Regions from separate parts of the Homo sapiens genome. Here region 2 is linked to region 1. The links come from fine-mapping of genetic effects on gene expression. A gene starts in region 1. The other region holds a variant in brackets. All regions are shown on one strand. Distances are from middle to middle.

Region 1 (4,399 bases):
TGCTGCCCTACTCTTTCAGAACATTCCAGGCACACTGGCCTGCCTTCTTTTGAACTTTCTATGTTCCTATCTCAGCCCCTCTTCTTGTTCTTCCTTCTCTTGGAATCCTTTCCCAAGTTTCTGAATGGCTGCCCCTTCTCATTACTTTGTAAAGAGGTGATCCTTGACCACTTTCCCTGCCCCAAGAAAGTCACTCTCATTGTTTGATTTTATATTTTATGTAGCACTTACAACTCTGCTCAGAACCTTCCACTGGCTTTCCATCTCACTCACATCAAATTCTCTTCCACAGCTCCCAAATAGCACACAATCTGGGCACCATTTCCTTTTGATCCCATCTCATGTCTGTCCCTCCCATCTCACTCTGCTCAGCCGTACTAATTTCCTTGGTGTTTTTCCAATATCTTAAGTGCTCTCCTAACTCAGGGTCTTTGAATGTGCTGTTCCTTTTGCCTGGAATATTCCCATCTAAAAACCCAGTGTGGATTAATCTCTCATGCCATTTAGATCTAGCTCAAGTGTCACTTATCAGACAGAAATACCAGTTTCAGGTGTTTCTGTCTATTGGGAGACTGCCTTTCCCTGGTGCTATATTAAAAAAAATTAGGATAAATAAATAATAAATAAATAAATGAAAAATACATTTTCTCTTCCTTATGATTTTATTAATAACAGTTTCTTTTCTCTGGCTTACTTTATTATAAAAATACAGTATTTAATATATATAAAATAATATGAGTTAATCGACTATGTTATCAGTAAGGCTGATAACAACTGCTTGATCATCACCTGATGGTCACCTGACATTCCTGGTAGGGGGTGGGAGGAGCCCTCTCCTGCCCTGCTCATGCCTGACTAGCTACCTACTGTAACAGAACAATGCCAGATTTCAGGAGTACCAAACTGCTGCACAATTGAAAATCCATGTATGTCTTTTGACTCCCCCAAAACTTAACCACGAATAGCCTACTGTTGACCAGAAGCCTTACTGATAATATTAAACAGTCAATTAACACATATTATGTTATATGTATTTAGATAAATACTGTATTTTTACAATAAAGAAAGCTAGAGAAAAGAAACTGTTATTAAGAAAATCATGAGGAGAAAATATATTTTCTATTTATTTATCGTTTATTTACCCTAATTAATACAGCAACCCCATCCCCATGCCCATCACTCTCTATCCCTCACCTTTTAACTTCCTTCAAAACTAGTTACATTCCTTGACATGTTAAATATTAATTTGTTTATTGTCTGCTTTCTACCAACTAGAATGCACCATGCATGAGAGCAGAAATTGTTTCCTCTAACTATTTTCATTGTTCTTAGAAGTGTTGGTGCTTACGAATAGTTTCTCATTAAATAAATGACAGAACTATTTGAAATTGCCTAATTAACACATGCACCTAATTTCTGTCTTTATGTCTTCACCACCTTCCCTGACATATAAGCCTTTGAAGACACAGCTGTAGAGGAGAAGGGGAGGGTTATTCAACCGCATTTACAAATCATAACTGATTTTAACTTCTGTATTTTCAGACCTCCCCAGCGACTTTCTCTCAGGAAACTCCACTCCCAACTGACAGGTGCTATTTCCAGCCAGTCCTATGCTGTTGCAAATAGTGAGTCCATGAATGCCCTCTGCCGTGTGCATTACTTATTTTCATCAGCAGATCTTCGTAACACACTCCTGGAAGTGGGATGACGGGGTCAAAAGGCGAATCCATACATAAGTTAAATAGATATTGCTCAATTCTCTTCCACGGGGTTCAGACCATTTTGGATTTCTACGAGCAATGAAGACAGTGCTATTCCTCTACACCCTGGCCGGCCAACTGAGCGTGGTTAAACGTGGGGAGGGAGGAGGGTGAGGTTACCAACCTGATGGTTGAGAAAGGGCCTCCGCCCAGCGCGCCCTTCCTCCACCCCCACCCGAGAGACAGCTGAACTCCGGCCGGGACGCGCGTGTTGCCAGTCCAGCCCTGCACCGCGTCCCCTGAGGGCGGGCTGCAGGCGGCCGGGAAGCCTTGCACAACCGGCCCAAAAGAGGAAGCCCAGAAAGTGCTGAAGTAAACACTTTGGGAGACCGTTGCAACATAAAGCGGCCTCTCAGTCTTTGGTGGAACCATCACTAGGCCCCAATCCCTTAGTCCCTCTTGCGTCGAGGCTGCAAAATGGTTCCATTCGCCAGGAGACGCTCCTGAGAGAAGGGCGCGCGCGGCACAGGTAGGGGGAGGCGCAACGTTTCCCAGAATTAAAATAAAATAAAATAAAATAAAATAAAAATCCCTTCAAGGTGGTTGTGTAGTAGGGGTGGGATGGGGGAGAGAAAATCAGGCGCAGACTCGATGAGTTGGAGAAAGCAGCCCCTAACTCGGAGTCCTTTACGCATATGTTTGTCTGTCCCACTGTCTCTAACCAGGGGCCTTCCTTGCACCTCGGAGCAAAGCAGCTCGGATAGCGCCACACGTCTGCGCGCTGCGTGGGAAGGGCAGGGCTGACAGCACTTCCTCCCCGGGGCAGCGACCTGGAGCCCGGGTGCGGCAGTCTGCACCGCGCGTCGCTTTCCCGGCCGGAGTCTCGCCGCCTTCCCGCGCCCCGCAGCGCCCCGCAGAGCAGTCGAGGTAAGTGGCGCTCCCAGTCCCGGGAGCCCTGGGAGCGCCAGCACGGGCCCCTCGGGGCTGTCAGGAACCCGTTTGTCAAGCCCGTCGGGTCCGACGCCGGGGGCAGCTCCAGGATCTGGCCTCGTGAACGCGTGCCCCCAGGCGTGGCCCTCGAGCGCAGCGGGTCCCCAGGGTCCCCTCCGCTGATCTCCACTCTGGACCCGGCTCGCGAGGGTGGGGGTGTGAGGGTTTGGGGTTCGGGTTTGCTTTTTCCCGAGCTATTGCAACAGATTTGACAGATTTCCTGCCCAGGAAATTGCTGCAAGGTCAAACGGGGAACTGCTATGAACCCTTGCACGTCCAGCAGGTCAGCAGGTCAGCAGGTCAGCAGGTCCGGGAGCCCCAGTCTCCCGGAACCTGGAGGGATTCTTGAGGGGCCAAGATTAGATGTGGATTAAATGCCAGCCGTGTGAGAATTTGAGTGTGGCTCGCAGTCTGATGCATCTTAGAGTGTTTCCTTCCTCTAAAACTTTTGGACAACTCTTTCCTCTTTTTAAAAATAACTTTTTCCCCCGAATATTCTCATTTTCATTTTAAAATACCATAAAGATAGATTTGGACACCAGGCACAAGTTTCATAATTTGGCTTGAAATGAATATCCAGAGGGCCTTTTACAGAATGGAGGAAACTAACTAGGGTGTCCTAATGTCTCCAAGAACCTCTGCGCAGGTGTTCCACCAAAGACCTAGCCCGGTGTACCTCTTACTTTCCTGCTAAGGTATTTCTTAGTTCATACCCCTGTGGAACGTGAAATGTGTTTCCTAGACACTCAGGGCATAGCGGTTCAAAAGAACTTTTAATGTGATCCTTGACGAGACGGAGTACTAGAGGAAAGTAACAAAAGAAAAGGGCCCGTGAGTTTATTATGCCCCCAGATGTTTTTTTCTGGTGGCATAACGTGGTTTAAACAAAGGTGCCGGTACTAGCTACTATTCATTTTAAAATCTGGGTCTCCAGAGAGAAATTTCAGAAAGGAAAACTTTGTCCTTTTTCATAAACCTAGAGCAGCGATTTTCCCTCTGGCCTCACTGGAATAATGGGTGGCACATGGGCCAGGACGATGATGCTGGCTGGCGAAATTAGCAAGGATCTGCTGAGAAATACTTTATAAAGTCTTCTAGTGGTATTTCCTGTCTGCTCAACGTGTGTTGTGAAAGGTCTAAGAAATTTAACTTCATCCTTAAACTATTAATAATGTGTGTCCTTAAACTATTAATCCTTAAACTATTAATAATTACTAATATTTGGGTTTTTTCTCAGCACTTGGGAGACCTGGGTTCTGGCTCTTATATCTCCCCCATCTAGATAAGGATGATATTGATTAACTTGCATAACTTCTCCCTGGACTTCAGATAACGTCAGTAAAGTGAGATGATTGGGCTACATTATGTCTGTTCTTAAAATAGCAATTGAGGAGTTGCTATAATTCTTTGAATTGGTCCCAACTGGAATACTGGCAACATTATATCAACATTAGAATTGCTGATCACAAATTTTTTAAAAATGGAGAAAATAATCATAACCATAACAGATTACATTCTGAAATATCAATATCTTTGAGGTCTTTTGTTTCTGAGAAGTTCCTGTAAAAGCGCAGTCAATATCTGGCCTATATGTAAAAAGGCAAATTTCCATCTTATTTGAAAACTGAGATAAGAAACAGCCCAAACTTGAACAGGTCAATATTATATTTTGAAATCTTTAAATTGCTATTTCTCAAGAAATATAACTT
Region 2 (4,399 bases), 100 kb after region 1:
CACAGTGTTGTCTATCCAGCAATATGAGACACTCAACTGAAAAACTGTTAGAACCAAATAAATGTATTAACTAAGAAAGTTTTTCTTTACACAAACAATATATATAATGCAAACCATAATGCAAAAGAATCCATGCAGACTAGAAACAGAAAATGCAAAATACCTAACAATAAACTCAGCAAGAAATGTTCCAGATTCATATGGCATAAAATATAAAATGTATTAAAAGAAATGAAGTAGAACTGAATCAATAGAAAGGTACCATGTTGCAGGCCAGGTGCGGTGGCTCATGCCTGTAATCCCAGCACTTTGGGAGGCCGAGGCGGGCGAATCACGAGGTCAGGAGTTTGAGACCAGCCTGTCCAACATGGTGAAACCCCATCTCTACTAAAAATGCAAAAATTAGCCAGGCGTGGTGGCGGGCGCCTGTAATCCCAGCTACTCGGGAGGCTGAGGCAGAAGAATTGCTTGAACCCAGGAGGCGGAGGTTGCAGTGAGCCAAGATCATGCCACTGCACTCCAGCCTGGGGCGACAAAGTGAGATTCCATCTCAAAAAAAAAAAAAAAAGTAGAAGATAAAGAAAAGAAAGGTACCATGTTGCTAAAAGAAAAGTTATTAATTCTTCCCAGTTTTCTATAAATTTAATATAATTTTAATAAAAATATCAGTAGGATTTTATTTACTTGAAATTCACAGACTGATTTCATGGAAAAAAGACACTGTTCCAAAATAGACCTTCCCAAAATTGTGAAGAACATCAAGGTAGATCTCCTGCTGTGCCAAAACATTAGATAAAAACAGCACAGCTAGAGACAAACAGGTCGACAGACAACCGTCTAATATCAGAGAAGTTAAAGTTGGAATTTATATCACAGCAGTGGGGAAAGAATGTGGTATTCAACAAATAGAACTGAAATAACTGTATATCCATTTAGAAATATAATTTCCTACCTCATTCCATGTACCAAACTAAATTCTTGATTGATTAAAATATCTTTAGAGAAAAATAGTATAAAATCCTAGAAGAAAACAGAGGCTGGCTGGGTGCGGTGGCTCATGCCTCTAATTCCAGAACTCTGGGAGGACCAGGTGGGAGGATAGCTTGAGCCCAAGAGTTCAAGACCAGCCTGAGAAACATAGGGAGACCCTGTCTGTACAAAAGGAATAAAAAAATTAGTGGGGATGGTGGCACATGCCTGTAGTCCCAGCTACTTGGGAGGCTGATCCGGGAGGATCATTTGAGCCCGGGAGGTCAAGACTTCAGTGAGCCATGTTCGTGCCACTGCACTCCAGCTGAAGTGACAATATGAGATCCTGAAAAAAAAAAAAAGAAGGAAAGAAAGAGAGAGAGTGAAGGAAGGAAGAAAGGAAGAAAGGAAGAAAGGGAGGAAGGGAGGGAAGGAAGGAAGGAAGAAAGGGAGAAAAAAAAGAAAATATAGGTTAATGTTTTTATAATTTTGAGCTGGAGAAAGGTTTCCTAAGCAAGAATAAAAACTCAAAATTATAACGGAGAAAAATGGCCAGATTTGACCTGATAAAGTTATTTTTAATACCTTATGGCCAAAGATAACAAACAAGAAGTGAAAGACTGACTACAGTGAGAGAGTACATTTGCAACATGTATAAACAAGTATGAATATCCATAAAATATAAAGACTTCAAGAAATCAATAAGAAAAAGATAAACATACAGAAAAATGGCAAAGCTTTTAAAGGGAAAATTTACAGAAAAAGAAGTACCGGTAACCACCGCATAACTAAAAGTTGCTCCGTCTCATTACTGATCAGGGAAATGAAAATTAAGCATGAGATTGATAAAATAAACAATATAGATAATATCCAAATTTTGGTGGAAGTGGGTAAGAAAAAGAGACACTCA[C/T]GCCTGGGAGCTTGGAATAGAAACTCATACGGCCAAACTGGGGGACAATTTAGCAAAATCTATGTACATGTAACAGGGAGTAAAAATCCTTTCAAATGGCAACTCCATGCTTGACGAATCTATCTCACAAAAATATAAGCTCACATGCACAGTATTTTTTGTAATAGCTAAATATTGAAATAACTTCTAATCATCTGTAGTAGAATAGTTAAATAAATCGTTACACCTGTACCGTAGAATTCTCTGCAGCCATAAAATGAATGTCATATATTAATTCATGTCTTGATGTAGAAAGACTCCTAGATGCAATGTTAAGAAAAAGAAGGCGAGGGGCGGTGGCTCACTCCTCTAATCCCAACAGTTTGGAAGGCCAAGGAAGGCGGATCGCTTGAGCTCAGGAATTCAAGACCAGCCTGGGCAACGTCATGGGATAGAACAGAATAGAATACTACCAAACTATTAACTATGGTACCTTTGGAGAAAAGAACAAAATAAGAAAAAGGGGTGGTGGAGGAAGATGTGCATTTTATTATTTATATATATATATATTTTAAATGTGACTAATATGCATTCGTTTGTAACTTAAAAATGTAAACTTTGAACATCCAGAAGAAAATATCTTGTAAGAAAAGAATACAAGCATATGTAAAGAAATAATTGTGCACTAAGGTGTAAATAGTTCTGCCATCTATTCTTTATTCACTAACTAGTAAAGAAATATAGAAAGCGAAACAAAAAACTAATGGAACACATTTGTAATTGAAGTGTAACCAAATATGTAGATTACAGGCTGCAGTCTTCACAGTGCCTGTTATCCGTGGAGGAGAGGTCTCTGTTTCCATGGCAACACTGCCTGCAGTAAAGAGAACTTGTGAAAGAAATCCTTTTTCTCAGGAGGAAGTGCATGAAGTGTGTGCTGATTTACTGAGCATAAGTTTATCTCTCATTTTTCGTCCTGAGGGGGACTTTTTTTTTTTTTTAATGCTCAATCGCAAAATCCATCACGGACTTAGAATGGCAAAAGTCAAAATGAAATTTCTGGCTAAGCGGTCACCTTGTCTCGACTGCATCAATAATGACATCTCAAGGACAGTCCATCCTGACTCTGGGAGTCCCCAGACAGGCATTAGAACAGCAGTATAATCTTTCACTCCGTTTCTGGGTCAGTGGCACCGATTTTCATGGCTGCACTCTTTTTAAAAAATTAATTTTATTTTTTGATTGACAAATAATAATTGTACATATGCATAACGTACATAGTGATGTTTTGATACATATAATGTATGGTGATCAGATCAAGGTAATTAGCACATCCATCATCTCAAACATTTATCATTTCTTTGTGTTGGGAACATTCAATATCTTTCATATTGGGAAAGATTTATGTATAGATCTTACTAAATTGTCCCCCAACTTGGCCATATCAGTTTCCATTCCAACCTTTCAGACTTGCCTTTGAGAAAACCTATACATGGCAGATGTTTATATAAATTACCTAAAAGTCAATATTTTCTTTACTAAAATATAATCCTTAGTTGTGCTATGAAGGACAACTCTGGAAAATTGTTAACTGTCATCTCAGTTGAAGTTTTATTTTTTTCCCTGTCTTTCAGACATCTCGAGATCTGGCGTGTTTTATACAGTTTGAAAATGTCAACATTTACTATGGGACTCAGCATAAAATGAAATATAAAGCGCCCACTGACTATTGCTTTGTTTTAAAGGTATGTTATAAGAAGTCATTCATTTAGATTTATAAGCAATTTGAGTTAATTTTTTTTCAAGGAAGAAAATGTTAAATTATAGTTAGCCATATGTGTAACAATAAGAAATTGTTTAACCAAAATAGGAATGAGGGAAACATTTCTATCAATTTGGGACATTTTCCCCAAAGCCTCCTATCTGAACCTAAAACTTTAAGGTAACTCTGTCTGGGGATTTCTTCACTTCTGAAAATGAAAGTTCCACATTTTAAACAAATTAATTTATAATGTTATCGATAAGACTAAAAAAAGTTTTCAGTTCTTATTGGGCTCATTCCACCATAAGAAGATTTTAGAAATTAGAAACTTGCAAGATTTCCTAGACAACTTATAGAAAATAGCCAAAAAAAAGTTGTTTTAATTACTGGGTCATGAAACTTCAGGTGTATATTGTCAAAAGGCAATAGGTATTATCAAATGTTAGATATGGTTTACATTTTTTTGAGACCGAGTCTCACTCTGTCACCCAGGGTGGAGTGCAGTGGCTCAATCATAGCCCACTGCAGCCTCAGCCCCCCAGGCTCAAGCAATCCTCCTGCCTTAGCCTCTCAAGTATCTGGGACTAGAGGTGTGCACCACCACACCAGCTAATTTTTGTATTTTTAGTTAAGATAGGGCTTTACCATATTACCCAGGCTGGTCTCAAACTCCTGGGCTCAGGCAATCCACCTACCTTGGCATCCCAAAGTGCTGGGGTTGCAGGCATCAGCCACCACTCCTGGCCGATTTACATTTTTTAAAATTAGAATCTCAGATC

Alleles and levels. Alleles are on the strand shown, and positions count from the first base shown. SD is a standard deviation of normalised expression in the study named.
In carriers of allele T in region 2, the expression in lung of the gene that starts at base 2,115 in region 1 tends to be lower than with C alone (small effect, 0.11 SD a copy in GTEx).

The links. PIP is the estimated chance that this variant, and not a neighbour inherited with it, causes the effect. A credible set is the group of variants that fine-mapping cannot tell apart.
Region 2: its variant is the best candidate, but not a certain one, in a credible set for the expression of APBB1IP in lung (GTEx, PIP 0.53).

Annotation. Positions count from the first base shown.
Region 1 is chr10:26,436,227-26,440,625 of GRCh38, forward strand. APBB1IP (amyloid beta precursor protein binding family B member 1 interacting protein) reads left to right here and starts at 2,115. Exons shown (of 15, transcript NM_019043.4): 1 at 2,115-2,229; 2 at 2,426-2,627. RefSeq lists enhancers at 1,432-1,961, 1,679-1,808, 2,369-2,448.
Region 2 is chr10:26,538,090-26,542,488 of GRCh38, forward strand. APBB1IP (amyloid beta precursor protein binding family B member 1 interacting protein) reads left to right here. Exons shown (of 15, transcript NM_019043.4): 11 at 3,493-3,603. Among named protein-coding and RNA genes, the nearest start is that of LINC03028, 39 kb to the right of the region's middle. RefSeq lists an enhancer at 2,662-2,731. The variant C/T (reference allele first, on the strand shown) is at 1,880.